Linked DNA regions of Homo sapiens. The protein of the gene in region 1 interacts with the protein of each later gene in a pairwise test. Each region holds a gene or a part of one and is shown on either strand. Other genes may lie near its edges. The genes, in order: INPP5J and DNAJA3.

Region 1 (15,989 bases):
GATGGTAGCCATAGCATGACCTCCCTCATGGCGGGCCTGGGTCAGGGTGACCAGGGAGAGAAAGGAAGGAGGACAGACCCTCGGTACCGTTGCCATCCTCAGGTGCCCCTGGAAAGTGAACCGAGGAAGAGGAGGAGGAAAAAGACAGGAAAGACTTCTCTCCCTTCCCTGCTCATGTTTACTCCGAACCAAAGGGCAGGAGGGTACATGTCCAAATTTCTCATCCTTTCACAGCCAGAACCTTCCTTCCCCATCCATGCTTTGTACCTGCTGTTCTCTCTGCTTTCCAGCCAGGGCGTTTCTCTTCTTCGATTTGGCAGCACGGACTCTCCTTCAAAGAAGGGGTTCAACAGTCAGCTCCTCTGTCGGGAAGAATTATCCACTGCCTCTCCAGGAGCTCCATGCTCTGTCCTCTCTCTACTGGCTGTGTAATCCCTGGGCCTCGGTTTCTTCCTCTGTCCAATGGGGGCCTCATTACCAACCTCACAGGGTTACTATGGAGAGTAACTGGGATACTCCATCTATCACTGGCATCCTGCCTTCCTATCCCTGACCCACACAGCCTGAAGGACAGCACTGAGTTTCCAGGAGTGGGCTGGATGAGCCCTGGACCCTGCCTCAGTACGCCCACCCCCCTCCCCCACCAAGAGTGAGGGCAAGGAGGGAGCCAGAAAGGGCCTCCAGAGACAGCCGTCTCCAGGGGGGCGGTTCTCCCTGACAGCTGCCCCCAGCCTGCCGCCCTGAGCCCCAGAGCCTGTTATCAACCTCCTTAGTCATCACACCAGGAGCTCAAATATAGCTCCAACTCACTCCCTTTTCAGCTGGGGTCCGCCCCCTACCCCCTTCTCCTGACAAGACCAGGCTTGGGTCTCAGAGCCCCTTCCTTGTCCTCCCAGGAGAGTAACCACCCTCAGCCTGTTTCAGCATCCACCACATGGGCAGGCTGAAGTCAATGGTGGTGATGATGATGATGATAAATACAGAGCAGCCACCTTTATGGAGAGCTTGCTGTGCCAGGCAGGCTCTATGCTAAACATTTCATATATATTATCCTGTTGAATCTTCACCAGCAAACTTAGGAGGTGTCTGCTGTTTTAATCTCCCTTACACAAATTGGGAATCAGAGTGACCTCCTCAAGTAAGTCAGTGGCAGGGCCAGAAACAAAGTCCCCTGCAGGGTCTGAGCTCAGGGAGCGGGTGGTGGGAAATCCTGGGTTGCCCTCCTGAGGCAGAGGAGCCCTCTGCAGACACATTTGCATGACATTTGCCTGGCTTCCAAAGGGCACTGATGCCCCTGTCCCAGCCCTAGATGGCTGAGCCTTAGGACTGGTCCCAGAGGCCTGGATCTGCCCATCATTCCCTCTAGGATTGCATGAAAAGCTGGGTAGTCTTGGGGGCTCCCATTTTCTTTTTCTTTTTTCTTTTCTTTCTTTCTTTTTTTTTTTTTTTTTGAGACAGGGCCTCTCTCTGTCACCCAGGCTGGAGTGCAGTGGTACGATCTTGGCTCATTGCAACCTCCACCTCCACCTCCCAGGTTCAAACAATTCTCCTGTCTCAGCCTCCCAAGTCGCTGAGACTACAGGCATGTACCACCACACCCGGCTCATTTTTATATTTTTAGTGGAGATGGGGTTTCGCCATGTTGACCAGGCTGGTCTCGAACTCCTGACCTCAGGTGATCTGCCCACCTCAGCCTCCCAAAGTGCTGGGATTACCCGCACTTTGCCAGTACTCCCCCAGCCCGGGGGCTCCCATTTTCTTATTTGTAAAACAGGAGACAGAGGATAAGACAGGATGAGTTCGAATCTTCCTTTTTCTGGTAACCTGAGCATCACCACCAGGTCTACTCTCACATCCTCCCTGACTGTCACCTCCAACTCCAACACTACCTCTTTCATTGACACAACACCATCATCAGTATTGGTATCATCATCACCTCTACCTTTGCCATCACCATCACCTCCACCACCTTCACCACAACCACTGCTAGCCCCCTACTTCCATCATCACAGTTACATACATCATCACATCCATCACCACAGTCGCCTTCCCCGTCACCACTGTCACCATCTCCACTATCGCTGTCCAAAGACCTTTCTACCCCAACACTCTAATATGGCCTGAGTCTCTGCCCCTGCAAATTCCAGCAGAGATGCTGGCCTGAGAATACAGACTAGACCTACTGACAGTCAAGCAGAGGTAGGAAGTGCCTTCAGGAGAGGAAAGTGAGGCATCTGCCTTCATGTAGGAGACTGCACAGGCCCATGCAGATGCTCCATGTTGGTTAACAGGGAGCTCTGCACACACAACTCTGAACACTTTCTGCCTAAAGTGGGTGGGATCACTCCTCTCTAAGCCATGAGAAACAGATCCCACAGCCATCCCAGCCCAATCTGACCCTCATCACCCATTCACTCTTCTAATTCATTTATTCATTCAACAAACACTCCCGTAGGCCTGTTGGGGACCATGTCCTGGGCTGGGTCCTGGCTGTAGCAATTCTCAGGCCTGTTTGTAACTCTCTTGTCAGTCTGTTACCCCACTGCTGGGCCCTTCTCCACCCAAGTTCCCTTCCCCCAGATAGCTCGAAGGGCTTGTGCTCATCCTAGGTCACTAAGTTTTCTCACTGAAACACAGGAGACCTTCTCAGTTCACCAGGTGACCTTGAGCAAGTTCCCCTCCCAAACCACACCCAGTGAATACTGGAGAGAAGAAAGCTGACAGAAGCCGGGCTGGGTTAGGCCTGGCTGTGGGGACATCTGAGGGCAGCTAGGTGTCTGCAGAAGAGGAGGGGCTGGTGCTGAGGCCTGAGATGGGAAAAGACTGCAGTGGCTGGAGCCTGAGTGTCTGGTTCTGGGTTGGGAAGAATAGAGCCTGGGACTGGCAGTAGGAGTGGAGAGGGTGGCACCAAGACCTGAAAATGGGGCAAGGGTGGGGGCCGGGGCAAGCTCTGAGCTGGCAGGGAGCCAGGAAGGTCACAGGATCAGGGCAAGAACTCAGTTGTCTCTGAGGCCCTGGAGAGGGTGCAGACCTCTGAACCACCTGTCCTACCTTAAGGCAGGTGTGTTAATGCCCCTCCCTGGAGCAAAGGGCTGACCAGGCCTACGGCAGAAAGGTGAAGGTAGACAGACAGCCTCCTTCCTGCTGCCAGTTGGGACCTGGGCCAGGCAGATGGGTACACTCTCCCCTCCCCACTCCATGGCTGTTCCAGCCTCAGCAGCCAGTTTGAAGGATTCCCAGGGGGTAGCCACCTTGCTTCGGCCTCTTCCAGGCTGGGAAGTGGGAGCCTGTGCCTTTAAATTCTCAGCAGGTTGAAATGGCTGATGACATCACTGGTTCCCGGGAGCGGTAGAGCTGGAGCCGGAGCCAAGGGAGTCCAGGCTGCCGGGGGCTGCAGACATGGAGGGCCAGAGCAGCAGGGGCAGCAGGAGGCCAGGGACCCGGGCTGGCCTGGGTTCCCTGCCCATGCCCCAGGGTGTTGCCCAAACTGGGGCACCCTCCAAGGTAAGACCCCTGAGACCCAGTGCCCCCCGCTTTCCTGATCCCTGGTTCCACACACCCCCCCCACATACACTGCAGGCTCCCTGGTGCTCCTGACTGAGGGGCTGGTACTTTCCTCTGCTCAGCGAGCAGGGGCTAGGTGAAGAGAGCACCCTGGGGGCTGAGGGGCAGTGACAGGATGCCCGGAGACAGATGAAGTTAGCCATCTCCAGGAGCCCTTGGGAGAGTCCTGGACTGGGTATCAGAGGACCCAGCTGTGCTCCACCTTTGCTGTGTGACCTTGGCCAAGTTGCTTTTCCTCTCTGAGCCAATGCAAAATGAGGGGGCTTGTCGCTGAAGACTAAAACTGTGACATCTGGGATGGCTAAGTTGTTAGTACTGGAGGCGGTGTGATAGTTGGGGGGAAGCCGGCACACAGTGTGACACTTGGAGCCAAGGAGGGTGCCTAAAATGCCACCTCAAAGAACTGAGTTTGAGAAGGGAGGTGGAGATGGAGTTTTAGGTACTCTGAACTGAGAAGGATACGGGACAGAAACAGAAGTGCGTCTCCAGAGGCAGGGCCTCCCTGCGCCCTGTTACCCTACCTAGGGCCATCCTGGGGCAAGTATAGACATTCTTCTGCCCTCCTTGGTGAAGGACACTTTATCCTGTCTTCTGGAGACAGGGGACATCAGAGAGAATAGATGGGGAAGGAGGATAGGTCTCTACAGGACTCCGTGACTCCCCACCCCTCCCACCTGCCGGACATAAATGGGATACCTGCTTGCCTGTCCTTTCAGGTAGGGGAGAAAGTGGAGGATGTAAGAGGGCACAACCTGGGCACAGAGAGATGTGACACCAGGATCAACTTAGAATCCTGGACTTGCTCTGAATGCTAGATTCACACTTGGTGAGGATGGACTATTCAACGGGGCTAGATGGAATTCTAGCAAATGTTGGGCTCATAAATGCAGACAATGGGAGATGAAGATTCCCCAGAATATAATGTGGCCAGGAACCCTAGACCCCATCCCTTCATTTTACAGACAGAGAAACTGAGGCGCTGGGCAGAGAGGTACTTGCCTAAGGTCACACAGAGCTGGGCTTTGAATCTACACAGCCAGTCTCAGCTCCCAGCTCTTGCTCCTGAGTGGAGCTCTGGGAATGGGTAAGAGAACAGAGAGGGCTGTAACCAAGGGATTTGGATGTTTAGGGGGCGGTGGGGAACTGAGGGTTTCTGGGCATTATGAAGGAAGGGAGAGGTATTTAACAAGCTGCACCTGTAGGTCTGTATCTTGACAATAGAAAAAGAAAAGAAACAGGCTGTCCCCAGTGTGCCCAGACCTGGGATGTCAGGTCAGTAGCCGTGGCTGGGGGAGCTTCAGGGACTGCAGTGGGAGGGTTGCCCAGGGAAGCTGCCCCGAATGGGCAGGGTGTGGGTGCCAGCCAGGAAGGCAAGGCAAGTCCTCAGGTTTAGGTTCACACTCTGCCTCATTTGAGTCAGGGTCTGAGTTTCCCCATCTGTGAAAGAGGTTTCAGACTTAAAGGAGGGGTTAGGGTTTTGTGTCCTATCTCCTCCAAGACAGAAGTTGACCTGCAGCAGAATAGATTGAAGTGAGATAGTAGGAAGAACTTCCTTGGAAAGATGTGCCTTTCTTAGCTAGATGAACTCTGCCAGGGTCTATATGGAAGTTGGGGCCCAATGCCCTGGTTAGGGTCACTCTGAATCTTTGACTTGTCCTCCACAAGGTGGACTCAAGTTTTCAGCTCCCAGCAAAGAAGAACGCAGCCCTAGGACCCTCGGAACCAAGGTTGGCTCTGGCACCTGTAGGGCCACGGGCAGCTATGTCAGCTTCCTCGGAAGGACCGAGGCTGGCTCTGGCATCTCCCCGACCAATCCTGGCTCCACTGTGTACCCCTGAAGGGCAGAAAACAGCTACTGCCCACCGCAGCTCCAGCCTGGCCCCAACATCTGTGGGCCAGCTGGTGATGTCTGCCTCAGCTGGACCAAAGCCTCCCCCAGCGACCACAGGCTCAGTTCTGGCTCCGACGTCCCTGGGGCTGGTGATGCCTGCCTCAGCAGGGCCAAGATCTCCCCCAGTCACCCTGGGGCCCAATCTGGCCCCAACCTCCAGAGACCAGAAGCAGGAGCCACCTGCCTCCGTGGGACCCAAGCCAACACTGGCAGCCTCTGGCCTGAGCCTGGCCCTGGCTTCTGAGGAGCAGCCCCCAGAACTCCCCTCCACCCCTTCCCCGGTGCCCAGTCCAGTTCTGTCTCCAACTCAGGAACAGGCCCTGGCTCCAGCATCCACGGCATCAGGCGCAGCCTCTGTGGGACAGACATCAGCTAGAAAGAGGGATGCCCCAGCCCCTAGACCTCTCCCTGCTTCTGAGGGGCATCTCCAGCCTCCAGCTCAGACATCTGGTCCTACAGGCTCCCCACCCTGCATCCAAACCTCCCCAGACCCTCGGCTCTCCCCCTCCTTCCGAGCCCGGCCTGAGGCCCTCCACAGCAGCCCTGAGGATCCTGTTTTGCCACGGCCACCCCAGACCTTGCCCTTGGATGTGGGCCAGGGTCCTTCAGAGCCTGGCACTCACTCCCCTGGACTTCTGTCCCCCACCTTCCGGCCTGGGGCCCCCTCAGGCCAGACTGTGCCCCCACCTCTGCCCAAGCCACCCCGATCACCCAGCCGTTCCCCAAGCCACTCCCCGAATCGCTCTCCCTGTGTTCCCCCAGCCCCTGACATGGCCCTCCCAAGGCTTGGCACACAGAGTACAGGGCCTGGCAGGTGCCTGAGCCCCAACCTTCAGGCCCAAGAAGCCCCAGCCCCAGTCACCACCTCCTCTTCTACATCCACCCTGTCATCCTCCCCTTGGTCAGCTCAGCCTACCTGGAAGAGCGACCCCGGCTTCCGGTGAGGGGGCCCTCTCCCAAGAAAGGTGGCTGGGGCTTAGCTCTGAGGTTAGCCATTCTTCCAGGGTGGATGGTGTGCTCTACCTCAGCTTCTCTCTCTGAGGAAGAGTCTTTGGGGAGGGGGTTGCTGGGCCCACTCTGTGACGCTCAGAAGATAGCATCCCCTCCTAAGGAACTTGCCGCCTCTCAGTTGATCTCCCCAGGGAGAGTGTGGCAGAGGGACAGGATTCGGGGCCTCCTGTGGGTCCTTCTTAGGGCTTTGGCCCACACCTGCCTCCATTTAGTTCCCCAGGGAGTCCTGTGAAAGGAAGCTTGAGGGTGAGGGAGTGGTGCCAGGACTACACCCTCATATGCCCCTGCCCTCAGGATCACTGTGGTCACATGGAACGTGGGCACTGCCATGCCCCCAGACGATGTCACATCCCTCCTCCACCTGGGCGGTGGTGACGACAGCGACGGCGCAGACATGATCGCCATAGGGTGAGGTGGCAGGGCATGTGGACCCCCTCCTGAGCCCCTCGGGCCTTCCGGGCCCTCCACCCATGGCAGGGGCTTCCAGGGCACCTCTCCAATCCCATGGCCACCCTGCCCCCACCCCTCCAGGTTGCAGGAAGTGAACTCCATGCTCAACAAGCGACTCAAGGACGCCCTCTTCACGGACCAGTGGAGTGAGCTGTTCATGGATGCGCTAGGGCCCTTCAACTTCGTGCTGGTAACGCACCCCTCACCCCCTGGACAGCCAGAGACCCTGCTGAATTCCTGGCTCCAGCTGTACCCTGGCTCACTGTGGGGCCCGCTGGGCCTCTGTGGCTGGGTCCGTGACATGGGTGGGTGGAGGAGCAGACCTGAAGGTGGGCGCGAGGGCGGGGGAGTTGTGTTCTGTCCCCCAGCCACGTGGCCTCCCGCTGCAGGTGAGTTCGGTGAGGATGCAGGGTGTCATCCTGCTGCTGTTCGCCAAGTACTACCACCTGCCCTTCCTGCGAGACGTGCAGACCGACTGCACGCGCACTGGCCTGGGCGGCTACTGGGTGAGCCTGTGAGCAGGCCCAGAAGAGGATGGGACATGAAGGGGGCTTTAGATTAGTCCCCCCGCCCCATGCACAGCAAGGTCCCCTTCCCATCCTCCACCCTTTACCCTGCGGCCCAGCCCCCCCATGCACCACCCAATACCCCATCCTATTCCTCTATACCCCCGCCCTTTTCTCTCCCCACTGTGTCCCAGCGTTGTTCCTCATTTCTGTAGGACCCACCCACCTTCCACCCACATCTCCTCTCTAACCCCCGCTCCCAGTGCCTCACCTCCTGGCCTAAGCCCCGCCCATGAGCCATCCGACCCTGCCTCCCTAGGGTAACAAGGGTGGCGTGAGCGTGCGCCTGGCGGCCTTCGGGCACATGCTCTGCTTCCTGAACTGCCACTTGCCTGCGCATATGGACAAGGCGGAGCAGCGCAAAGACAACTTCCAGACCATCCTCAGCCTCCAGCAGTTCCAAGGGCCGGGCGCACAGGGCATCCTGGATCATGAGTATGGGCTGGGGTGGGGCCAAATAGAGCTTGGGTGGGGCTAGTGATGGGGGTTTTTGTACCACCTTGGGTGGGGCTTATGGAGAGAGGCAGGGCCTATGGGGTTTAGTGCCCACCCAAACTAGTTGTAGGAACACGAAAGCAGAGAGCAGTTGGATGGGGAGGGGCGGAGCTTGTAGGGTGGAGCTTTGCTGAGGGGCCCCGCCTTGCTGAAGGTCAGAACCTAATTTCCTGTAGACCGGTCCCTCTGCTTTTCCTCTGCCCTTTGGTGGGCTGGAGGCTCTGGCACCACTCACCCACTCACTACATCCCCTCGGGTTGGATGGGCTGGAAGGATCTGGGCTGAGCCCTTATCCTCCATGGACCTGTTGACACCCCCCACTGCCCCCCACATCTCTCCCATCCCCCACCCCAAACAGCCTCGTGTTCTGGTTCGGGGACCTGAACTTCCGCATTGAGAGCTATGACCTGCACTTTGTCAAGTTTGCCATCGACAGTGACCAGCTCCATCAGCTCTGGGAGAAGGACCAGGTGGGGTCCTTGTCCCCAGAAGCACACAGAGCATGTCCCAGGACACGCCTGTACCTTAGACTATGGTCCCTGTCCTCACCTGCCCCACCCCCTCCCTGGGCACAGCAGAGCCCAAGCTGTTGTCCAATCTGCTCTCCTGGACCCCCCACAGCTCAACATGGCCAAGAACACCTGGCCCATTCTGAAGGGCTTTCAGGAGGGGCCCCTCAACTTCGCTCCCACCTTCAAGTTTGATGTGGGTACCAACAAATACGATACCAGGTGAGCTCAGTCCGAGGAGGGACTGAGGGGAAGTGGGCTGAGGTCTTCTCGAACAGGGAGACTTTGGGAAGAGGGGCAGGAGGCAAGGTGGAGGGTTACATCTTGATCCCCAGCCCCTGAAACTTGGGGTACCCCTGCTCACTGCAGTGCCAAGAAACGGAAGCCAGCTTGGACAGACCGTATCCTATGGAAGGTCAAGGCTCCAGGTGGGGGTCCCAGCCCCTCAGGACGGAAGAGCCACCGACTCCAGGTGACGCAGCACAGCTACCGCAGCCACATGGAATACACAGTCAGCGACCACAAGCCTGTGGCTGCCCAGTTCCTCCTGCAGGTGAGTTCTGGCCTCATCCTCCCCGCATGAAATCCCCAGGCCCAACTCGGCATACCACTGCCCCTCACCATTACCCTTTGTATAACCCCTTGTACCTGCCCTCAGCAGCATCCATTTGTTGTAACAGTGGAAATGGGGTTGCAATCTACATTTTCAGATGAGGAAGCTGAGGCTCAGACACATGGCATCACCTGCCCAGGGTCACCCAACTAGTAAGAGGAACAGTTAGGATTTGAACCCAAGTGAGTCTGGTTTCAGAGCCCATGCCTTTTCTTTTTTTTTTTTTTTTTTTTTTTGAGACAGAGTCTCATTCTGTCACCCAGGCTGGAGTGCAGTGGCACGATCTTAGCTCACTGCAAGCTCCGCCTCCCGGGTTCAAGTGATTCTCCTGCCTCAGCCTCCTGAGTAGCTGGGATTACATCACCCGCCACCACGCCAGGCTAATTTTTGTATTTTTAGTGGAGACAGGGTTTCACCATGTTGGCCAGGCTGGTCTTGAACTCCTGACCTCCTGATCCACCCACCTTGGCCTCCCAAAGTGCTGGGATTACAGGCGTGAGCTACCGTGTCTGGCCAACTTTTTTTTTTTTTTTTTTTTTCTTTGAGACGGAGTCTTGCTCAGCCGCCCCAGGCTGGAGTGCAGTGGCACAATCTTGGCTCACTGCAACCACCATCTCCTGGGTCCAAGCGATTCTCCCGTCTCAGCCTCCCAAGTAGCTGGGATTACAGGCACCCGCCGTCATGCCCGGCTAATTTTTGTATTTTAGTAGAGACAGGGTTTCACCGTGTTGGCCAGGCTGGTCTTGAACTGCTGACCTCAGGTGATCCACCCACCTCAGCCTCCCAAAGTGCTAAGATTACAGGCATGAGCCACTGTGCCCGGCGCCCTTTTTTTTTTTTTTTTTTTTTAATGCAGTCTCACTCTGTTGCCCAGGCTGGAGTGCAGTGGCGTGGTCTCGGCTCACTGCAACCTCTACCTCCTGGGTTCAAGTGATTCTCCTGCCTCAGCCTCCTGAGTAACTGGGATTACAGCTGCCCGCCACCACGCCTGGCTAATTTTTGTATTTAGTAGAGATGGGGTTTTGCCATGTTGGCCAGGCTGGTCTCGAACTCCTGACCTCCGGTGATCTGCCCACCTCGGCCTCCCAAAGTGCTGGGATTACAAGGTGTGAGCCACCACACCCAGCCTTAGAGCCCGTGCCTTTTCTGCTAATCTCTAACTCCTGTCTTCTGAGAAAGGTTTAGAGTAATTTATCTTAAAATTCATTTATAGGCTGGCGCAGTGGCTCACACCTGTAATCTCAACACTTTGAGAGGCTGAGGTGGAAGGATCACTTCAGCTCAGGAGTTTAAGACCGGCCTGAGCAACACAGTGAGACACTGTCTTTAAAAAAAATCAAAAAAAGGCCGAGCGCAGTGGCTCACGCCTGTAATCCCAGCACTTTGGGAGGCTGATGTGGGCGGATCACATGAGGCCAGGAGTTTGAGACCAGCCTGGCCAACATGGCGAAACCCATCTCTACTAAAAATACAAAAATTAGCCTGGCGCAGTGGTGCATGCCTGTAATCCCAGTTGCTTGGGAGGCTGAGGCACAAGAATCACTTGAACCTGGGAGGCAGAGGTTGCAGTGAGCCAGTATCGTGCCACTGCACTCCAGCCTGGGTGACATGAGCAAGACTGTGTCTCAGGGAAAAAATAAAAATAAAAATAAAATTTAGCTAGGTGGTGCACACCTGTATTCCCAGCTATTTATGAGGCTGAGGTGGGAAGATCACTGGAGCTTGGAAGATCTAGTCTGCTGTGAGCTGTGATCGTACCACTGCACTCCAGCCCAGGCAACAGAGCAAGACCTTGTCTCAAAAAAAAAAAAAAATTCACATATGCATCATCATTTTCACTACTAGTGTCTTAAAAATAACAAAGAAAAGATATAAAAATTCACATATATAATAAGACCAGCAAAATCAAACTCCATGTAACATTCATTCATATTCATTCATTCGTTATTTACTGAGTACTTAACTGTCTTACCATATGCCAAGCATTATGAGAGTGTGTAGTGATGGGGAGGGAGAGCAAAGATATAAAAAATACAAAGCTGAACTCTTAAGTAGTTACTATAATTTATATTGTATTTAGGATTGAGGTTCCTGGTTGCCGACATCAAAATGGGAAATCCTAGAATCTCAGAACCAGACCTGTGAGACCAATTTGGCCCACTCCCTTTTTTTCTGTGGCGGGATCTGAGGCTCCTCATGGGGTAGGCACATGCCCCAAACCATACACAGGCTCTGCAGTGGCAGAGCAGGGTAGATCCCATCTTTTCAGCCCTGAAACCCAACTCTGGGCTCTTCAAGTCTCTTGATCTGATAAGAGGGAGCCCAGCAGGCCAGAAAATGTTTTTCCTGGTAACTTTGTCACATGGCCAGTCAGTGGGACATTGGCCAATATCTTTAGCTGGGAATGGAAATATCCCCACGCTTGGCCTGCCATGACCTCTGGCAAAAGTGTTGGGCATGAAGATTTAACCCACAATTAGGGACCTCACCTGAAAAATCACTCCTTTTGACACCCCATCCTGTCCTTCCCACCTCCTCCAGGACTCTGTCCCTTTAAAAACATTTCCCAACCAGGTGCAGTGGCTCACGCCTGTAATCCCAGCACTTTGGGAGGCTGAGGCAGACGGATCACTAGGTCAGGAGTTCGAGACCAGCCTGGCCAACACAGTGAAACCCTCTCTCTACTAAAAATACAAAAATTACCTGGGTGTGGTGGTGCGCACCTGTAGTCCTAGCTACTCGGGAGGCTGAGGTAGAGGAATTGCTTGAACCCGGGAGGCGGAGGTTGCAGTGAGTTGAGATGGCACCACTGCACTCCAGCCTGGGCTACAGAGCGAGACTCTGTCTCAAAAAAAAAAAAAAAATTCCCATTGAGTACCTACTACATGCCAGGCCTGTGTAGTGCACTTTACATATGTCATCCTTTTGAATGCCTCAGTAGGCCCTGAGATGTCCCAGTTTTCCTCTCTGTTTTACTGGTGAGGGAAACTGAGGCTCAGAGAACTTAAGTCTCTTAGCCAAGGCAATGCAGTCAGAATAGGGCTCAGTAGGGGTTTTGATGCTGCAAGGCCTTGGAGGGCATTTTCAAAGGTCTACCCTTGCCCGCCCCTGCTGTTAGGAACACAGGAACAGGGAAAGAATGTGCCAGTTACTTCTGGAACAGATTGGCTCGGAAGCTGAGGGAGGGAAACCTGAAACTAGGTAAACAGGGGATCAGACAAAGATCTGGTGTTGGCAACAACTCAGTCCTTCCCTGAGGGACAGAGGTGGGGTCAATATCCTGGCAGCCTGCCACCTCAGCAGCTCCACCCATTCAGGTGGCGCCCCTGGTGGGTCTGGGTTGACCTTGGGGAAAGGATACTCGTGGTTATAACTTTCCTTCATGGACTGATGACAAGGTAATAGTTAGTAACCGCTTAGTACTTAGACTCAGTTGGAGAAACTGAACCTTGGGATGGTTAGAGCCTGCCCTGGGGTAACATAGCGAGTTAGCAGTAGAGCCTGGAAGTGGACTGAGGTCTCCATCCTCCCACGCAGAGCTCTTCTTGCCTGCTCAGGAATATTCAGCTTACCCCAAATACCCAGTGCATCATAGGATTTTATTGGTCTTCCTTGCTAGCATAGAGACAAATCATTTATTGAGCACTTACTGGTATACTGGGAAATTTATGGGATGCTTTGCAAATGGTGTCTCACTGAATCTGCTGAACAACTCCAAGAGTAAAATAAGAGTCTCTGAGTTTGGCCGGGCACGGTGGCTCATGCCTATAATCCCAGCACTTTGGGAGGCTGAGGTGGGTGGATCATTTGAGGTCAGGAGTTCAAGAACAGCCTGGCCAACATGGTGAAACGCTGCCTCTACTAAAAATACAAAAATTAGCCAGGCGTGATGGCGGTACCTGTGGTCTCAGCTACTGGGGAGGCTGAGACAGGAGAATCACTTGAACCCGGGAGGTGGAGGTTGCAGTGAGCCGAGATTGCACCACTGCACTCCAGCCTGGGTGACAGAGCGAGACTCCATCTCAGAAAAAGAAAAAAAAAAAAAAGAGTCTCTGAGTTTACAGATGAGGGCCCTGGCATTCAGAGAGGCTGAGGAACTCACCCAGCCTGTCAACGGCAGAACCAGAGCCAAATCCAGGATTTGCTAGCTTCAAAGCTATGTTCTCACTCACTCCCTAAGGAGGCTGTGGGCAGAAGGAACCCTGGGCTGGGAGGCAGCACAGGGCTTGGTATTTATACTAGACCTGTTCTGCCTCAGTTTCCCAGTCTGTAAAGTGGCCCTTTGTCTCAGGCAATTTGTGCTAAGACCCAAGAGCCTTAAGTGTGTGGGATACTAGAGGGTCTCCCCTGATGTGGCCCCCTGCCCCTGCCTTGCCTGGACAGTTTGCCTTCAGGGACGACATGCCACTGGTGCGGCTGGAGGTGGCAGATGAGTGGGTGCGGCCCGAGCAGGCGGTGGTGAGGTACCGCATGGAAACAGTGTTCGCCCGCAGCTCCTGGGACTGGATCGGCTTATACCGGGTGAGAGGGGCAGTGGTGGTCAGCGACTCAGGGAAGAAAGGGGCCTGGAGGAGCAGCTGAACAGCATGGTGGGGTCACTGGCTTGTCCAGATCTTGATGCCACACTGGGAGACTGCTGGGATCAGACATTATAGGGTCACAACACTGATTCCACAACACTGATCCCCCAGGTGGGTTTCCGCCATTGCAAGGACTATGTGGCTTATGTCTGGGCCAAACATGAAGATGTGGATGGGAATACCTACCAGGTACTTAAAAGGAGTGGGAGAGTCAGGGCAAGTCCTTGTTGCCTTTGGGACCTCAGAACTCACCTTGGGGGCTCTCAGGTGGCCTCCCTGACCCCCAACTTAGGCTTATACCCCTGGGCCTACCAGGTAACATTCAGTGAGGAATCACTGCCCAAGGGCCATGGAGACTTCATCCTGGGCTACTATAGTCACAACCACAGCATCCTCATCGGCATCACTGAACCCTTCCAGGTAAGTAGGCCAGACTGCTGGGCTGGGGGTGCCTAAAGACTTTTGTCAAATGCCACAGCCTCTACATTCTGCTCCTTGAGTTCAGACAAATAACCTGACCTCCCAAGATCTGCCAACGAGAGAGGCAGACCTCGGGAGGTCAGGCCTCAGTGGCTGGGTTGGGGAGCAGGGCGCCCCAGTGACCAGCATTTCCCCCAGATCTCGCTGCCTTCCTCGGAGTTGGCCAGCAGCAGCACAGACAGCTCAGGCACCAGCTCAGAGGGAGAGGATGACAGCACACTGGAGCTCCTTGCACCCAAGTCCCGCAGCCCCAGTCCTGGCAAGTCCAAGCGACACCGCAGCCGCAGCCCGGGACTGGCCAGGTTCCCTGGGCTTGCCCTACGGCCCTCATCCCGTGAACGCCGTGGTGCCAGCCGTAGCCCCTCACCCCAGAGCCGCCGCCTGTCCCGAGTGGCTCCTGACAGGAGCAGTAATGGCAGCAGCCGGGGCAGTAGTGAAGAGGGGCCCTCTGGGTTGCCTGGCCCCTGGGCCTTCCCACCAGCTGTGCCTCGAAGCCTGGGCCTGTTGCCCGCCTTGCGCCTAGAGACTGTAGACCCTGGTGGTGGTGGCTCCTGGGGACCTGATCGGGAGGCCCTGGCGCCCAACAGCCTGTCTCCTAGTCCCCAGGGCCATCGGGGGCTGGAGGAAGGGGGCCTGGGGCCCTGAGGGTGGGGTAGGCAGATGGGCCAAGGTGACCACCATTCTGCCTCAATCTTTTGCAAGCCCACCTGCCTCTCTCCTGCTGCTCCTCCAGCTGTATCTGCACCTGCCTCTCTGTCCTGGCCAGGGGTGGACAACTGGGGTCCCCCAAAACTCAGTCCTGGCACCTCAACTGTGACAATCAGCAAAGCCCCACCCAGGCCCCCATCTGGGATGATGGGAGAGCTCTGGCAGATGTCCCAATCCTGGAGGTCATCCATTAGGAATTAAATTCTCCAGCCTCACTCTCGGCTCTTTCCTACTTGTTAGTAGTCTTGGGATGGTGGTAGTCAGAGGCAGGGACTGAAGAGGTGAGGGAATGACAGAACCGACATTTACCAGGCACCAGCTGTATACATTACACATGCCATCTCCTTTAATCTGCATCACAACCCTGTGAGATCAGTGCTATTCTTAGACCCATTTCACAGGTGAGCGAACTGAGGCCTTTAAAAGGTTACATCAACCTCTCAAGATCAGACACCAAACCATAGTTCAGCTAGGTGTCGCAGGGGGGAATACTTATTAAGTGCTAAGCACTGTATATGTATTGGTTCACTTAATCCTCAACAACCCTATGAGGTAGCTCCTGTTTAGAGACCCCCTTTTTTTAGAGGAGGAAACTAAGGCTTAGAGTGCAAGAGGGAGGTCCTTTGCGCAAAGGCATGGAGGAGATTTGAATTTAGGTTTAGGGCTGGGCCAGGAAGGGCACGGCAGCCGTTAAAAAAAGAGGCCCCCCTGGGAGGAGGGGAGCTGAAAGCCCTCTCCAACACCCACCCCAATCCTGGATTCAGACACAGACATTTCTGTGACATCCCTAACTTCCCACCTGCTACCTCAGGCCACAGCACCCAGGCACTAGGGCTCCCCTAGGCAGGTTTTTGAGGCATGTATTATTTTTGCAACACGGACATACATGTACCTCCTCCTGGTACTGCCTGGGGCTGCTGCAATAAGTTACCCTTTCCCCATTCTCATCTGTATGTGAAGTTCCCTGGCAAGGCCAAAGCCCAGGGCATCAGAATGAGCTTCCTGAACACCACATCCAGGCATAGAAGAGTTGTGTCATACATAGCTCAAGGTTACCCAGAACAGCAGGAGATGTGGTCCAGCATTTGGGCCTTGAGATCCCCCCATTCATCCTCTTGATTG
Region 2 (15,989 bases), on another chromosome or scaffold:
GAGCTCAGGAAGAGACAGGCCATTCGCTCTTCACAGGCCAGGATCTCTGCTTCCTGTCCCCATGCCTCTGTTCATTCCATTACAACCCAATTAAAAAAAAAAGACAACCCAGTTAAAAGTGGGCAATGGATCCAAACACACGTTTCTCCAAAGACATACTAATAGCCAACATGCACAAGAAAGATGCTCACCATCATTAGTCATCAGGGAAAAAGCAAATCGAAACTCTAACGAGATAGCATTTCTTATTCACTAGGGTCGTAATTAAAAAGACAGACGATAATAGTTAAGTGTTCACTGGGATGTGGAGAAATCATGGCCCTCATATGCTGCTGGTGGGAATGTAAAATGGTGCAGCTGCTTTGAAAAAGGCTGGCAGCTTCTCAAAAGGTTAAACATCCAGTTACCATATGACTCAGCAACTATACTCCTAAATATCCAAGAGAACTGAAAACATGTCTACACAAAAACTTACATATGAATGTCTATATAGCAGCACTGTTCATGATAGCAAAAAGTGGAAAATATCCAAATGTCCATCAAACGATGAATAAACAAAATGTGATTAATCCATGCAACAGATTATTTGACCATAAAAAGGGATGAAGTATTGACACAAACTATAACACAGATGAACCCTGAAAACATTATGTGAATGAAAGAAGCCAAGACACACAAAAGGATACATATTGTATGATTCCCTGTATATGAATATTGAGAATAGGCAAATCCAAAGAGGCAGGACGCAGATTAGCAGCTGCTAGGGACCGGGGAGAGAGGACAATGGAAGGGGAGTGCTAATGAATACAGAGTTTCTTTTCGAGGTAATGAAAATGTCCTAAAGTTGACTGTGGTGACAGGTGCACAACTCCAGTGAACTGTGCACTTATAAAAAGCTGTCAATCCTACAATGGTGCCTCCAATATTGATTTTATTTTGTTGGTCAGAGCAAACCAAGGGTCTAGGAACCAGTGGTGTAGACATCTCGTATACAACTTTACTCAGCTACCCTAACTACCCTAATAGACCCTGGGATACAATGGGAATTTCACATTTTCCAGGTTAAGAAAGGGCCAGGCGCGGTGGCTCACGCCTGTAATCCCAGCACTTTGGGAGGCTGAGGCAGGTGGATCACCTGAGGTCAGGAGTTTAAGACCAGCCTGACCAACAAAGTGAAACCGCGTCTCTACTAAAAATACAAAAAAAATTAGCCGGGTGTGGTGGCAGGTGCCTATAGTCCCAGCTACTTGGGAGGCGGACACAGGAGAACTGCTTGAACCCAGGAGGCAGAGGTTGCAGTGAGCCAAGATTGCGCCACTGCACTCCAGCCTCAGCAATGGAGTGAGACTCCATCTCAAAAAAAAAAAAAAAAAAAAAAAAAAAAGAAAGGAAAGGAAGTAATTCTAAACCTCTAAACTTTTATCTGGATGCAAAAAATAACTACCTAAAACTTAGACTAGCATATCTACTGATTCAGAAAATACAGATTAAATTTAATTATGAAAACAGCTCTAGAAAAAAAAACTTCTTAAAATCTCTGGTTTGGACTCACCTCTTTTTTCTGAAGCACCAACCTCTACAGCATTGTGCATCGAAAAACAGTCTAGCAAAGTCCAGCTTTATCACACCCTTCTATACTATCAGCTCATGAGACCTATTCATATGGGCACATACGCTGTACTGATCAGGATCACATGGGATCAACAACATTCCTACTACAATTTGGTCACCAAAACCTGACTTCCATACAGACCTGATAATAGGCTTTCTTGATCTCTTTCTGGCTGGCATTTCGAGGCACTCCTAATATCTGATAATAATCTTCTTTGGCCAAAGGGGCACTCGTGTGGAAGGAGGCAGTACAAATGAAAGGGTTATGTTTTGTTCCTAAAAAGGAAAAAACAAAGAAAATCACTCTGGGAATGTTCTCAACAAAAGAAAACTGTGAGTACATGACCCACCAGGCTATATCTGTGAAGGAACAAACAAACTGATAAGGTTTGGCTGTGTCCCCACCCAGATCTCAACTAGAATTTTAGTTCCCATAATCCCCACGTGTCATGGGAGGGACCTGATGGGAGGTAACTGAATCACAGGAGCGGTTACCTCCATGCTGGTCTCGCGATAGTAAGTTCTCATGAGATCTGATAGTTTTATGAGGGGCTCACCCTTTTGCTCATTCTTCCTGCTGCCATGTTAAGAAGGATGTGTTTGCTTCCCCTTCCGCCACGATCGCTGAGGCCTCCCCAGCCGTGCTGAACTGTGAGTTAAATAAACCTCTTTCCTTTAAAATTTACCCAGTCTTAGGTATGTCTTTATTAGCTGCATGAGAACAGACTAATACACAGGCTACAGCTTTAGGGCTGTTCCCTAATGCACTTCAATAATGGCTAAGGAAGCCACAGTATTCAATTAATATTAAACTATGTCAGAGTATTGGATGAGGCTGATTCTCCTCGCTTATACTACTGGAGTGGTCTCAGTAAACCACTAAAGGAATAATACTCCTGACTGGGAGATGATTAAAAAGGGATTCAGCTCCCCCCTCTTATGCCACATGAGCACTTACCATTTGCTAGGTATTTTCATATTTTCATATTTTTCTGTCACATTTAATGCTTAACAACTCCCCACATTCTTTTCCCTCTATCTTGCAGCCTTGGGTATCTACTTAAGGAGCAGTTCTCAAGACTGCGCTCCCTGGACCAACAGCATCATTAGACTGATGAAAACACAGATGTTCAAGCCCTACTCCAGACATTCACCAGAAACTCAGGAGGTCTCCACCCACTAGATGCCAGTAGAGAACTCCCCGTCTCCAGGCATTGCCAAATGTCCCCTGGGAAGTAAAAGTGTCCCCTGCTGAGAACCAATGACAAATCAATCTAAGAAGGTCGGGGAAGAACTTCTAGGCATCAGCTGTTAAGCTGCAGAAACTGGCTAAGCTGCCCAGGAAAGCATTTGCCACTTTCAGTGGAAAACAAATGGCGGTTACTAACTAGGATGACTTTGTACTTTGGATCTGGATTCACAGCACCTTTTTTAATAGCAAGACACCAACTGCTTAAGAAACAAGGATGTTTTAGTTCATCCACTTAACAGATAGGAAGAGCAGGTTTTTTGTTTTTTGAGATGGAGTCTCGCTCTGTCGCCCAGGCTGGAGTGCAGTGGCGCCATCCTGGCTCACTGCAAGCTCCACTTCCCGGGTTCACGCCATTCTCCTGCCTCAGCCTCCCAAGTAGCTGGGACTACGGGCGCCTGCCACCACACTCGGCTAATTTTTTCATATTTTTAGTAGAGACGGGGTTTCGCCGTGTTAGCCAGGATGGTCTCGATCTCCTGACCTCATGATCCGCCTGCCTCGACCTCCCAAAGTGCTGGGATTACCGGCGTGAGCCACCGTGCCCGGCAGGCTTTTTGTTTCTTTGTTTTTTGAGACGGAGTTTCGCTCTTCTTGCCCAGACTGGCGTGCAGTGGTGCGATTTTGGCTCACTGCAACCTCCGCCTGCTGGGTTCAAGCGACTCTCCTGCCTCAGCCTCCCAAGTAACTGGGACTACAGGCGTGTGCCACCACGCCCAGACTGGAGGTGTTTTAATAGATGAAATCTGTTTAAAAAGTGAATAAGCCGGGCCGGGTATGGTGGCTCCTGCCTGTAATCCCAGCACTTTGGGAGGCCAAGGCGGGCGGATCACCTGAGGTCAGGAGTTAGAGACCAGCCTGACCAACATGGAGAAACCCCATCTCTACTAAAAATACAAAATTAGCCGGATGTGGTGGTACATGCCTGTAATCCCAGCTAGTAAGGAGGCTGAAGCAAGAGAATCGCTTGAACCTGGGGGGCAGAGGTTGCAGTGAGCCAAGATCGCGCCATTGCACTCCAGCCTGGGCAACAGGAGTGAAACTCCATCACAGAAAAAAAAAAGAAAAAAAAAAAGAAAGAAAAATAAGCCTGGGCACAGTGGCTCTCGCCTGTAATCCCAGCACTTTGGGAACCTGAGGCGTGAGGATCGCTTGAGCCCAGGAGTTCGAAACCAGCCTGGGCAACACAGAGACCCTGTCTCTATTAAAAATAAATAAATAAATGGATCAAAGACTTGAACTTATATGACATACTAGATGTTTGTAAATAAACTTATGACATGGAAAAAAAAGAGAGAGAGACAGAAATAGGCTAAAGAGGACTTTGAATCCATACAGATTTATACCTATAACTAAACTAGATGGCAGTGGTGGTAGTGGTGGTTAGAGATGATAACGATTAATGGGGCCTAGGAATAGGAAGGGCCTTAGAGCTATGCTAAGGAGTCTGGATTTTATCCTAAGAGCAATAGGGAGCCACTGCAAATGTTAAACAAAGAACCCATTAGGTTTGCATGAGAAACAACTCTAGGCCAGGCAAGGTGGCTCACGCCTATTGTAATCCCAGCACTTTGGGAGGCCGAGGCGGGTGGATCACTTGAGGTCAGGAGTTCGAGACCAAGCTGGCCAACATGGTGAAATCTTGTCTCTACTAAAAATACAAAAATTAGCCGGTCATGGTGGTGCACGCCTGTAATCCCAGCTACTTGGGAGGCTGAGGCATGAGAATTGTTTGAACCTGGGAGGCTGAGGTTGCAGTGAGCCAAGATCGCGCCATTGCACTCCAGCCTGGGCGACAGAGCAAGACTCCACCTGAAAAAAAAAAAAGAGAAACAACTCTAGGAAGCCTGGGAGACTACTCGAAGTTAATCAGCACAAAACACAACCAGAGGTTGGTTGAGCACATCCAAGTAGGAGGCCAGGTAAAGGATGATCAGACAGGAGAATGGATAGGAATGGTCAGGATACTTAAAATTAGAAATAGGAAATAAATCCGTGTGTTTGGCACACCCAATATCCTCGGGATACAAAAAGCACACTGGAAGTAGTAGGGGTCAGGAGACCACTTTGTGTTTCTTCAGTCAGACTTGAGAAAACACTAGACCTGACTTATTATTGAACTTGTACTCAACCCTCTTTTTATTTCGGAGTAAGGGGTTGCCCGGCCCAGTCCAGCCTCTCTCTCACCACTCATTCCAATGCCACAAGGCGGAGGCTGGTAGTGACCTGTGGCAGCTGTGGCTTCAACATTACGGGCAGAGAACACGGACAGGAGTTAGTACAGAGATAGTAACGCACAAAACTGCATGTGGATAAAGACAAATCACGTTTAATTACAAGACTGATGGCTTTGTTTTTTCTTTTTTTGAGACAGAGTCTCACTCTGTCACCCAGGCTGGAGTGCAGTGGTGTGATCTCGGTTCACTGCAACCTCCATCTCCCAGGTTCGAGCGATTCTTCTGCTTTAGCCTCTCAAGTAGCCAGGACTATAGGCGCACACCACCACACCTGGCTAATTTTTGTATTTTTAGTAGGTAAGAAGTTTCACCATGTTGGCCAGGCTGGTCTCGAACTCCTGACCTCAAGTGATCCGCCGGCCTCATCCTACCAAAGTGCTGGGGTTACAGGCATGAGCCACCATCCCCAGTCTGATGACTTTTGACATTATCCATAGGGCATCAATGATTAACAATAATTAGATTTCATTTAATAGACTATTTATTTTATCACATATGACCAGTAAATGTCCTGTCCTTTTTAGAACAACCCAGAATAAAATAAGCCTCCAAGTCGTTCTAAGAATGGCCAACCCACTGTCCAACAACTGCTTTCTTTTTTTTTTTTTTTGACAGGGAGTTTGGCTCTTGTTGCCCAGGCTGGAGGGCAGTGGCGCGATCTCGGCTCACTGCAACCTCTGCCTCCTGGGTTCAAGCGATTCTCCTGTCTCAGCCTCCCGAGTAGCTGGGATTACAGGAACCCGCCACCACGCCTGACCAACTTTTTCTATTTTTAGTAGAGACAAGCTTTGGCCATCTTGGCCAGGCTGGTCTCAAACTCCTGACCTCAGGCGATCAACCCACCTCCCAAAGTAATGGGATTGCAGGCATGAGCCACCATACCTGGCCACCAACAACTGCTTTCTTTCTGCTTGGAAGAAAAGTCACATCTAAAATGTTGTTATGTCATCTTACTACTAGATTTGAGACAAGATCACAGACTAGTGTTTGGACGCTGAGTTAATGACCTTTTCAAAATTTTTTTTTTTAAGAGACAGGGGTCTCATTATGTTGCCTAGGCCAAATTCAAATTCCTGGACTCCAGCAATCCTCCCACCTCAACCTCCTGAGTAGCTAGGACTATAGAGGCTCGCCACCACATGGCTTCTCAGTTGATGACTTTATTAATTTTTTGGTAGAGAAAGAGTCATACTCTGTTGCCCAGGCTGGAGTGCAGTGGCATCATCATGGCTCACTGCAGCCTCAACCTTCTGGGCTCAAGTGAAACTCCCACCTCAGCCTCCCAAGCAGCTGGGAGTACAGGCAGTTGCCACCATAGTTGGCTAATTTTTTTTTTTTTGAGACACAGTTTCGCTCTTGTTGATCAGGCTGGAGTGCAATGGCGCTAACTCGGCTCACGGCAACCTCCGACTTTCACGTTCAAGCAATTCTCCTGCCCCAGCCTCCCGAGTACCCGGGTTTACAGGCATGCGCCACCAGGCCTGGCTAATTTTGTATTTTTTGTAGAGACGGGGTTTCTCCATGTTGATCAGGCTGGTCTCAAACTCCTGACTTCAGGTGATCCGCCCGCATAGGCCTCCCAAAGTGCTGGGATTACAGGCGTGAGCCACCATGTCCGGCCACAGTCAGCTAATTTTTAAAAATCTTTTTGTAGGCCGGGCGCGGTGACTCACACCTGTAATCCCAGCACTTTAGGAGGCTGAGGTGGACAGATCATGGGTAAAGAGATCGAGACCATCCTGGCCAATATGGTGAAATCCAGTATCTGCTAAAAATACAAAAATTAACTGGGAGTGGTGGCACGTGCCTGTAGTCCCAGCTACTCAGGAGACTGAGGCAAGAGGATCACTTGAACCCAGGAAGCGGAGGATGCGGTGAGCCGAGATCACGGTGAGTCAAGATCATGGTGAGCCGAGATCGCACCACTGCACTCCAGCCTGGCTACAGAGCAAGACTCCGTCTCAAACAAACAAACAAAAAAAATCTTGGCCGGGCGCGGTGGCTCACACCTGTAATCCCAGCACTTTGGGAGGCGGAGGCGGGTGGATCACGAGGTCAGGAGATCGAGACGTCCTGGCTAACACAGTGAAACTCCATCTCTACTAAAAATACAAAAAATTAGCTGGGCGCGGTTGCAGGTGCCTGTAGTCCCAGCTACTCGGGAGGCTGAGGCAGGAGAATGGCCTGAACCCGGGAGGCGGAGTTTGCAGTGAGCCGAGATCGTGCCACTGCACTCCAGCCTGGGCGACAGAGTGAGACTCCGTCTCAAAAAAAAAAAAAAAAAAAAAAAATCTTTTTGTAGAGATGGGATCTGCCTATGTTGCCCAGGCTGGTCCCAAACTGCTAGGCTCATGTGATCCTCCTGCCTCAGCGCCAGCATAGCGCTGGAATTACAGTCGTGAGCCACCCCGCCCAACCAGTTGATGACTCTATCTGTGAAAACAGCACGTACCCTGAAGGATGCCACCTCTCACCTGTGTACACTACCTGATATAAAACTTGCCCATGGCAGGTTATGAGCTCACTTGGGGAACAAGACAGCTAACCGCAGTTCCTTAGTCACAGCTTCACACAAAGCTTAGTGTTTAGTGCCTGTTTCTCTCTTTCACATACACAATAATAACGAGTGCTCCCAAATTTGTACAGCTGGAACATGAACAAATTTGGCTTAATAAAACAAGTCACCTAAGGATTAATATTTGAATGAAAAGATGCAGCCAGATTCTATTTAAAACAACCTTGACATTAGAAAATGTTAGCAAGCTCTAAAAATGGCCACTTTTGCTCATGTTGAAAAATCTAGCCTGGCATGGTGGCACACACCTATAAGCCCAGCATCTTGGGAGGCTGAAGTGAGCCAGGATCACATCACTGCAATTTGGCCTGGGCAACAGAGCAAGAGTCCATCTCAAAATAAAAATAAGGCCGGTCGCGGTGGCTCAAGCCTGTAATTCCAGCACTTTGGGAGGCTGAGGCGGGTGGATCACAAGTTCAGGAGATCGAGACCATCTTGGCTAACACGGTGAAACCCTGTCTCTACTAAAAATACAAAAAATTAGCTGGGCGTGGTGGCGGGCGCCTGTAGTCCCAGCTACTCAGAAGGCTGAGGCAGGAGAATGGCGTGAACCCGGGAGGCGGAGCTTGCAGTGAGCTGAGATAGCGCCACTGCACTCCAGCCTGGGCAACACAGCGAGACTCCGTCTCAAAAAAAAAAAAAATTCATTCTGTTGGCCAGGTGCAGTGGCTGATGCCTGTAACCCCAGCACTTTGGGAAGCTGAAGCAAGGGAATCACTTTAGCCCAGCCTGGGTAACATGGTGAAACCCCATCTACAGAAAACTAGCTGGGTGTGGTGGTGCATGCCTGTAGTCCCAGCTACTCAGGAGGCTGAGGATGGAGGATCGATTGAACCTGGGAGGTCAAGGTTGCACTGAGTTGTAATTGTGCCTCTGCACCAGTCTGGGCAACAGGAGGCCCTGTCTTAAAAAATAATTAAATACATAAATAATCATTCTCTTAACCAAACACACATCCAATCTCTTTGTTCTCTGCCATCTCCTCAGTGCCCAGAACAGTGGCTGGCATACAATTGGCCTCAATTAACACCTGTGAATGAATGAATTTTCAGACAGGTGCTCGAAGGGGTTAAATAATACACCCCGCTCACAGACGCTGGGGAAGTTCACCCCTGAAGCCCAGGCTCTTTTCTTTACATTGCATGAAGTAACCACAATTACTGATACTTTAATGATTGTCTACTATGTAACTATTACAAACTGGATTGCAACAGGAAGTTAGTTGGTATAAATTATCTTGTCAGGGCCCTTTAATTAATCTTTATAAATTTATAGATAGCTTAAATACCATTTGCACAAATTCTAGAGGACACAAAACTAGCACAATTCAGGTACGTACAACACACAGCACAAAACACACGGCATAAGAAAAGAAGGCTAAGCAGGGCACGGTGGTTCACGCCTGTAATCCCAGCACTTTGGGAAGCCAAGGGGAGGCGGATCACCTGAGGTCTGGAGTTTGAGACCAGCCTGGCCAACATGGCGAAATCCCGTCTCTATTAAAGATACAAAAATTGGCCAGGCGTGGTGGCGCATGCCTCTAGTTCCAGCTACTGGGGAGGCTGAGGCAGGATAATCTCTTGAACCCAGGAGTCGGAGGTTGCAGTGAGTCGAGATTGAGCCACTGCACTCCGGCCTGGGCAACAGAGCAAGATTCAGTTTCAAAAAAAAAAAGAAAAGAAAAGAAAAGAAAACATGACTAAGCACTTCAAGGCTTAATGTATAATTCAGTGTCATCTCAGGCAATGATATCAAGCCTCCACCTCCTTGTGACATTTATAAGTGGTTTAACATCTAAGCCTCAGTATCTTTATAAAATGGAATAACAGTGCCTATCATGTGGAAATGTGATGTAAGGGGAAAACCATGCCTGGCCAACAGTAAGTGCTCAATAAATGTCTGACTGTGTTATTATTACAATCACCAACTAAAGACTTCTAAAAAGATTGTTAACTGTGCCCTTCAATTAGCACCACGTGGTAGAAAGAGCGTAAACTATGACATGACTGCTTTGGGTTTGAGACAACTCTTCTAGTCTAACTCCATGACCTTGGGCTGGTCGATTCCTCCGTTGAATCTCAGTTTCTCATTCTTTAAAATGGTGATGACGGCAGGCATCTTGCAGGGTTGTTGTAACAAAGTACCTAGGCCTCTCCGAATGGCAGTTAGCTCTTCCCTTCCGCTACGGGCTAGAAGGTGGAGAGATGGGAAAGGAAGAGGACGAGGGAGCAGCGGCCTCCAGAAATGTTGACAGAGAGGTGAAGGTTCACGATCTACGGGGCGTTTCATCACCGCCGCCGGGGGCTCCACGCTTCTCTCCCTTCCTTGACGGCTGAGCAGCCACTGGGGCCTCCCCGCCTCCTGCCTGTCTGTGTCTCCGGCAATTGTGCATCCGCGTCGGAAGACACCCTCCACCCCACTACCCCTGCAGCCGTAGTCACAGCGAGGAGACTCACTCTTTTCTAGGCCCTGAAACCGCCACTCGGAAGTTGGAACCTGCCCTCACCTGTAAGGCTGACACCAGGTCTCAATGTCAGCAGCGCTCGGGGGCCGCAAGAGGTCAGGGAAGACGCAAAGGCGGGGACGCTCAGCTTGCGGCTCAGCCATGCCCCCACCACGCCCTCCCTGGGCGGCCGGGCCCCTCTACCCGATATAGCCGGCAGCCGCGGGGTCCCCACAACCACCAGCAACCAGCGTGTGGAGCACCGCGCAGCCATCTTGGCCCGGGGACTCTGCGCCTGCGCCGCCCGGCTCTAGGTGGGCCTCGCGGGAACGGCGGGCGCGCGTAGAGGCGCATGCGTCGCGCACGCGCAGGCGCACCGTACGCGTAGCCGCAGCCAACGCGCCTTCCGGGTAGCCATCGCCGAAACGGGGTTTGCTCTGAAGAGTGTTGTTAGGTAGACTCGCCGTGCAGAACCTCGCTATTCTGTGCTAGACAACCAATGGGTGTACGTTATCGGTGTAAGGACGTGGTTGAATGTAGCCGAACTTAAGTGGTCCGAGGGGTCTGGCTAAGGGCGAGACTACAAGTCCCAGCATACAACGCGGTCCTCCGTCGCGCCGCTCCCAGCATGTAGTGCGTGGTTTCCTCCTGCTGACCCTGAGACTTACGACGAATTGCGTGAGTTTTACTCATGCCGTCTCCGCGCGCTTCTAGTAAATCTTCGTCGCCACCCTCAGAATCCTGGCCGCAGTCTCACTGTCTCTTAGGCTGATTCCCCACCCGCCTCCTCTAACAAGACTCAGTTCTCCTTTTTTTCTTTTTTTTTTTTTTGACAGAGAGTCTCGCTCTGTCGCCAGGCTGGAGTGCAGTGGCGCGATCTCAACTCACTGCAACCTCCTCCTCCCGGGTTCAAGCAATTCTCTGCCTCAGTCTCCCGAGTAGCAGGGATTACAGGCGCGCGCCACCGCGCCCGGCTAATTTTTTTGTATTTTTAGTAGAGACGGGGTTTCACCATCTTGGCCAGGCTGGGTCTTGAACTCCTGACCTCGTGATCCACCCGTCTCGGCCTCCCAGAGTGCTGGGATTACAGGCGAGAGCCACCGCGCCGACCTCAGCTCTCTCCTTAAGCGTGTTAGCCTTCTCCAAACCTGCAGTGAACTTGCTGGTTCCGAATGGGAGCCGTGCTGCCCAAAAACTAAATTAGTAAAACTTGTGAGCGCCTACTGTGTGTCATGCATGTTCTAGAATATCGGGGATACAGTGATGCCTGATACACCATCCCTGTTCGGGAGGAGCAAACAATGACTCGAGAGAGGCTCCTTAGCAACTAACAATGTTAAATGCTATCACAGGAATAAGCACTGTTACAGTCATACAAGGTGAAGGAGTCATTCCATTTCTAAAATGGGAGAGAGGAAGTTTGGGATGTCAGGGCTTCTAAGAGGTAAGATTCAAACTGAACATCGATGAAAAGTGTGTCAGGTAGGGATGGAGTATTCCAAGTAGCCTGAACTTAAGAAACAAATGTCTAAGATATGAAAGTGTTTGCCTTCTTTGCTTAAACCCTAAATTTAAGAGTATGTGATGAGGCCGGTCGCGGTGACTCACGCCTGTAATTCCAGCATTTTGGGAGGCCGAGGTGCCGGCGGATCACGAGGTCAGGAGTGCCAGACCAGCCTGGCCAACATGGTGAAACCCCGTCTCTACGAAAAATACAAAAATTAGCCAGTCATGGTAGCACGCACCTGTAATCCCAGCTCCTCGGGAGGCTGAGGCAGGAGACTCGCTTGAACCCAGGAGGCGGAGGTTGCAGTGAGCCAAGATCGCGCCACTGCACTCCAGCCTGGGCAAGAGAAACTCCATCTCAAAAAAAAAAAAAAAAAGAAAAGAAGTGGTGGCCGGGCGCAGTGGCTCACGCCTGTAATCCCAGCACTTTGGGAGGCCGAGGCGGGCGGATCACCTGAGGTCCGGAGTTCGAGACCAGCCTGACCAACATGGAGAAACCCCGTCTCTACTAAAAATACAAAATTAGCCGGGCGTGGTGGCGCATGCCTGTAATCCCAGCTACTCCGGAGGCTGAGGCAGGAGAATGGCTTGAACCCGGAAGGTGGAGGTTGCAGTGAGCCGAGATCACGCCATTGCACTCCAGCCTGGGCAAAAAGAGCGAAACTCTGTCTCAAAAAAAAAAAGTATGTGATGAGATGAGGCTAGGAAGGGAGACCTGACCTGGTTAGTCTTGCAAAGGACTTTCAATTTTCACACTCCCACCATCATAACCACCTCAAGCAATGGGGAAAAAACCTGAGGATTCTTGTTTGGATTTAAAACAAACTGTGCTCATAAATCTTCACCCCCATCCCCAAAGCCTGGGAATCTGTGCTACTCCCCCTCCCCGCTACTCCCAGCATTGTACACCAAATTTTTGTGTACGTGGATGTTAATTTGGGTAGATACCCATAGCTTTCGTCAAATTCTCCACAGGCATTGAGACTCGAAGATTAAAAACCACCGGTCCTGCCAGGCACGGTGGCTCACGCCTGTAATCCCAGCACTCTGGGAGGCTGAGGCAGGCGGATCACCTAAGGTCAGCAGTTCGAGACTAGCCTGACCAACATGGAGAAACCCTGTCTCTACTAAAAATACAAAATTAGCTGGATGTGGTGGCGCATGCCTGTAATCCCAGCTACTCGGGAAGCTGAGGCAGGAGAATTGCTTGAACCCAGGAGGCGGAGGTTGCGGTGAGCCGAGATCGCGCCATTGCACTCCAGCCTGGGCAACAAGAGTGAAACTCCCTCTCAAAAAAAAATAATAATAATAAATAAATAAATAAAACCACCAGTCCTTTGAAGAACAGTGACCAAGCTATTGTAAATTGCAAGTAATAGTTGGAGAGAGTTTGGGCTACGGAATGGGGAGGACTGAGATGAACAAGGGTGTTGGGAGGTGAGCAAGAGTTCCTTTAATACATTCAGCAAATACTTAAATGACCAGCATAGTGATGAAGAGTATGGGTTCTGGGCCAGGCACAATGGCTCACGCCTGTAATCCCAGCACTCTGGGAGGCTGAGGCGGGCGGATCACCTGAGGTCAGGAGTTCAAGACCAGCCTGGCCAACACGATGAAACCCTGTCTCTACTAAAAATACAAAAATTAGCCGGGAATGGTGGCAGGCGCCTGTAATCCCAGCTACTCGGGAGGCTGAGGCAGGAGAATTGCTTGAACCCGGGAGGCGGAGGTTGCAGTGAGCTGAGATAGTGCCACTGTACTCCAGCCTGGGTGACAGAGTGAGACTTTGTCTCAAAAAAAAAAGATACGGGTTCTGACTGGGCGCGGTGGCTCATGCCTGTAATCCCAGCGCTCTGGGAGGCCGAGGAGGGCAGATCACAGCGTCAGGAGTTCAAGACCAGTCTGGCCAACATAGTTAAACCCCGTCTCTACTAAAAATACAAAAATTAGCCAGGTATGGTGGCACATGCCTGTATTTCCAGCTACTGGGGAGGCTGAGGCAGGAAAATCGCTTGAACCCAGAAGGCAGAGGTTGCAGTGAACCAAGATCGCGCCACTGCACTCCAGCCTGGGCAACAAGATCAAAACTCCGTCTCAAACAAAAAAAGAGTATGGGTTCTGTGGCCAGGCGCGGTGGCTCACACCTGTAATCCTAGCATTTTGGGAGGCTGAGGCGGGCGGATCACCTGAGGTCAGGTGTTGGAGACTAGCCTGGCCAACATGGAGAAACCTCGTCTCTACTGAAAATACAAAAGTTAGCCGGGCGTGATGGTAGGCGCCTATAATCCCAGCTACTCGGGAGGCTGAGGCAGGAGAATTGCTTGAATCAAGGAGATGGAGGTTGCAGTGAGCCAAGATTGCGGCACTGCACTCCAGCCTGGGCGACAGAGTGAGGCTCTGTCTCAAAAATAAAGAGAAAAAGAGTATGGGTTCTGTGCTAGGCATGGTGGCTCATGCCTGTCAATCCCTGCACCTTGGGAGGCCAAGGCAGGAGAATCACTTGGGCCCAGAAGTTCAAGACCAGCCTTGGCAACATAGCAAGACCTCATCTTTACAAAAAAAAATTTTTTAATTGGCCGGGCATGGTGGCGCATGCTTGTGGTCCCAGTTATTTGGGAGGCCAAGGTGGGAGGACCACTTCAGTCCAGGAGTTCAAGTCTACAGTGAGCTATGATAGTGCCACTGCATTGCAGCCTGAGCAACAGAGCAAGACACTTTCTCAAAAAAAAAAAAAAAAAAAAAAAAAAAAAGAGTATAGCTCTGGAGTCAGACAGCCTGGGATTGAATTCTAGCTGTGCCACTTACCAGCTGTGTGTCCTTGGGCAACTTACTTCACTCTGTTCTTCTGTTTCCTTTTCTCTAGAATGGGGACATAGGCCAGGCACGGTGGCTCACACCTGTAATCCCAGCATTTTGAGAGGCTGAGGTGGGAGGATTGCTTGAGTCTGGGAGGCTGAGGCTGCAATGGGCCATGATTGTGCCACCGCACTCCAGCCTGGGTGACAAATGGAGACCATATGTCAAATAAATAAATGAGGACTTAATAGTAACGACGTCGGCCAGGCGTGGTGGCTCACGCCTGTAATCTCAGCACTTTGGGAGGCCGAGGTGGGGGGATCACCTGAGGTTCAAGAGCAGCCTGGCCAACATGGTGAAACCCCATCTGTACTAAAGAGTACAAAAATTGCCGGGTGTGGTGGCTCACGCCTGTAATCCTAGCACTTTGGGAGGCCGAGGCAGGTGGATCACCTGAGGTCAGGAGTTCAAGACCAGCCTGGGCCACTTGGTGAAACCCTGTCACTACAAAAATACAAAAATGAGCCGGGCACAGCGGCACGTGCCTATAATCCCAGCTACTTTGGAGGCTGAGGCATGGGAATCACTTGAACCCAGGGGGTGGAGGCTGCAGTGAGCTGAGATTGCACCACTGCACTCCAGCCTGGGCAACAGTGAGACTCTTCCTCAAAAAAAAAAAAAAAAAAAATTTCACCAGGCGTGGTGGCGCGCACCTGTAGTCCCAGTTACTGGGGAGACTGAGGCAGGAGAATCACTTGAACCTGGGAGGCGGAGGTTGCAGTGAGCCGAGATCACGCCACTGCATTCCAGCCTGCACAACACAGCAAGACTCTGTCTCAAAATAAAGCAAAACAAAAAATAGTAATGTCCTCAAAGGGTCATCTGAGTGACATAATCATGTAAAGGCTTCCTATAGTACTTGATGCGTAGCCATTGCTCAATCTGTGTTGGCCCCATGTGCCAGGCTGTACTAAGCACTGAGGATACTAAGAACTCAGACAGAGTTACTTACTCACGGGGAGCCCAAAACTTAGGAGAAATGGGGGTTGGGGGGATGCTGCTGGTTGAGAAGAACAACTTTCAAGTATAGAAGCTGAAAACAAGAGCCAAAAGGACTTCCATTTACTACCTCAGAGTGAGTTAGGAACTAGAGGAGAGCTCAGTAATATGAAAACTGTCACCGTTGTAACTTCCCCCCCTTTTTTTCTTTGTATTTTCGTTTATCCCCCATCTAGTTCCCCATAGTGATGAACAGTAAAAATCCTCCACGTTGAAATGGTGTGTGTGTTCTTGTTTTCAGGGATAGCAGGAAGGCTGATTGTTGGGGAGCCAGTATTTTCTATTATGAAGCAGAGAACTCTTAAGGAGTGGAGTGGATGATGGTAATTACCAAAAGAGAGGACAAAGTCCTTGGGATCTGCCACACAGAAGAAAGAAAAACATGGGAAAGACTCCCAGCTGAGAGCAGCCTGGGCCTATGCCTGGTCTCTTTTTGGTTAGACTTTATTATTATTTATTTTTGAGACAGTGTTTTGCTCTTGTTGTCCAGGCTGGAGTGCAATGGCACGATCT

Evidence for each region.
Region 2: the proteins of INPP5J (region 1) and DNAJA3 interact in binary tests that used the Homo sapiens proteins (3 or more experiments, as listed by UniProt).

Annotation. Positions count from the first base shown.
Region 1 is NC_000022.11:31,119,616-31,135,604, forward strand, and holds INPP5J (phosphatidylinositol 4,5-bisphosphate 5-phosphatase A), read left to right. Parts: upstream 1-3,350; 5' UTR 3,351-3,399; coding exon 3,400-3,504; intron 3,505-4,280; exon of another isoform or gene 4,281-4,390; intron 4,391-4,526; exon of another isoform or gene 4,527-4,648; intron 4,649-5,229; coding exon 5,230-6,395; intron 6,396-6,678; exon of another isoform or gene 6,679-6,760; coding exon 6,761-6,874; intron 6,875-6,997; coding exon 6,998-7,106; intron 7,107-7,305; coding exon 7,306-7,422; intron 7,423-7,741; coding exon 7,742-7,917; intron 7,918-8,159; exon of another isoform or gene 8,160-8,335; coding exon 8,336-8,447; intron 8,448-8,598; coding exon 8,599-8,708; intron 8,709-8,855; coding exon 8,856-9,039; intron 9,040-13,482; coding exon 13,483-13,620; intron 13,621-13,790; coding exon 13,791-13,868; intron 13,869-13,994; coding exon 13,995-14,099; intron 14,100-14,297; coding exon 14,298-14,804; 3' UTR 14,805-15,082; downstream 15,083-15,989. UniProt on the Homo sapiens protein: Inositol 5-phosphatase, which converts inositol 1,4,5-trisphosphate to inositol 1,4-bisphosphate.
Region 2 is NC_000016.10:4,420,282-4,436,270, reverse strand, and holds the start of DNAJA3 (dnaJ homolog subfamily A member 3, mitochondrial), read right to left. Parts: upstream 10,404-15,989; 5' UTR 10,390-10,403; coding exon 10,179-10,389; intron 1,888-10,178; coding exon 1,754-1,887; intron 1-1,753. UniProt on the Homo sapiens protein: Modulates apoptotic signal transduction or effector structures within the mitochondrial matrix. Affect cytochrome C release from the mitochondria and caspase 3 activation, but not caspase 8 activation.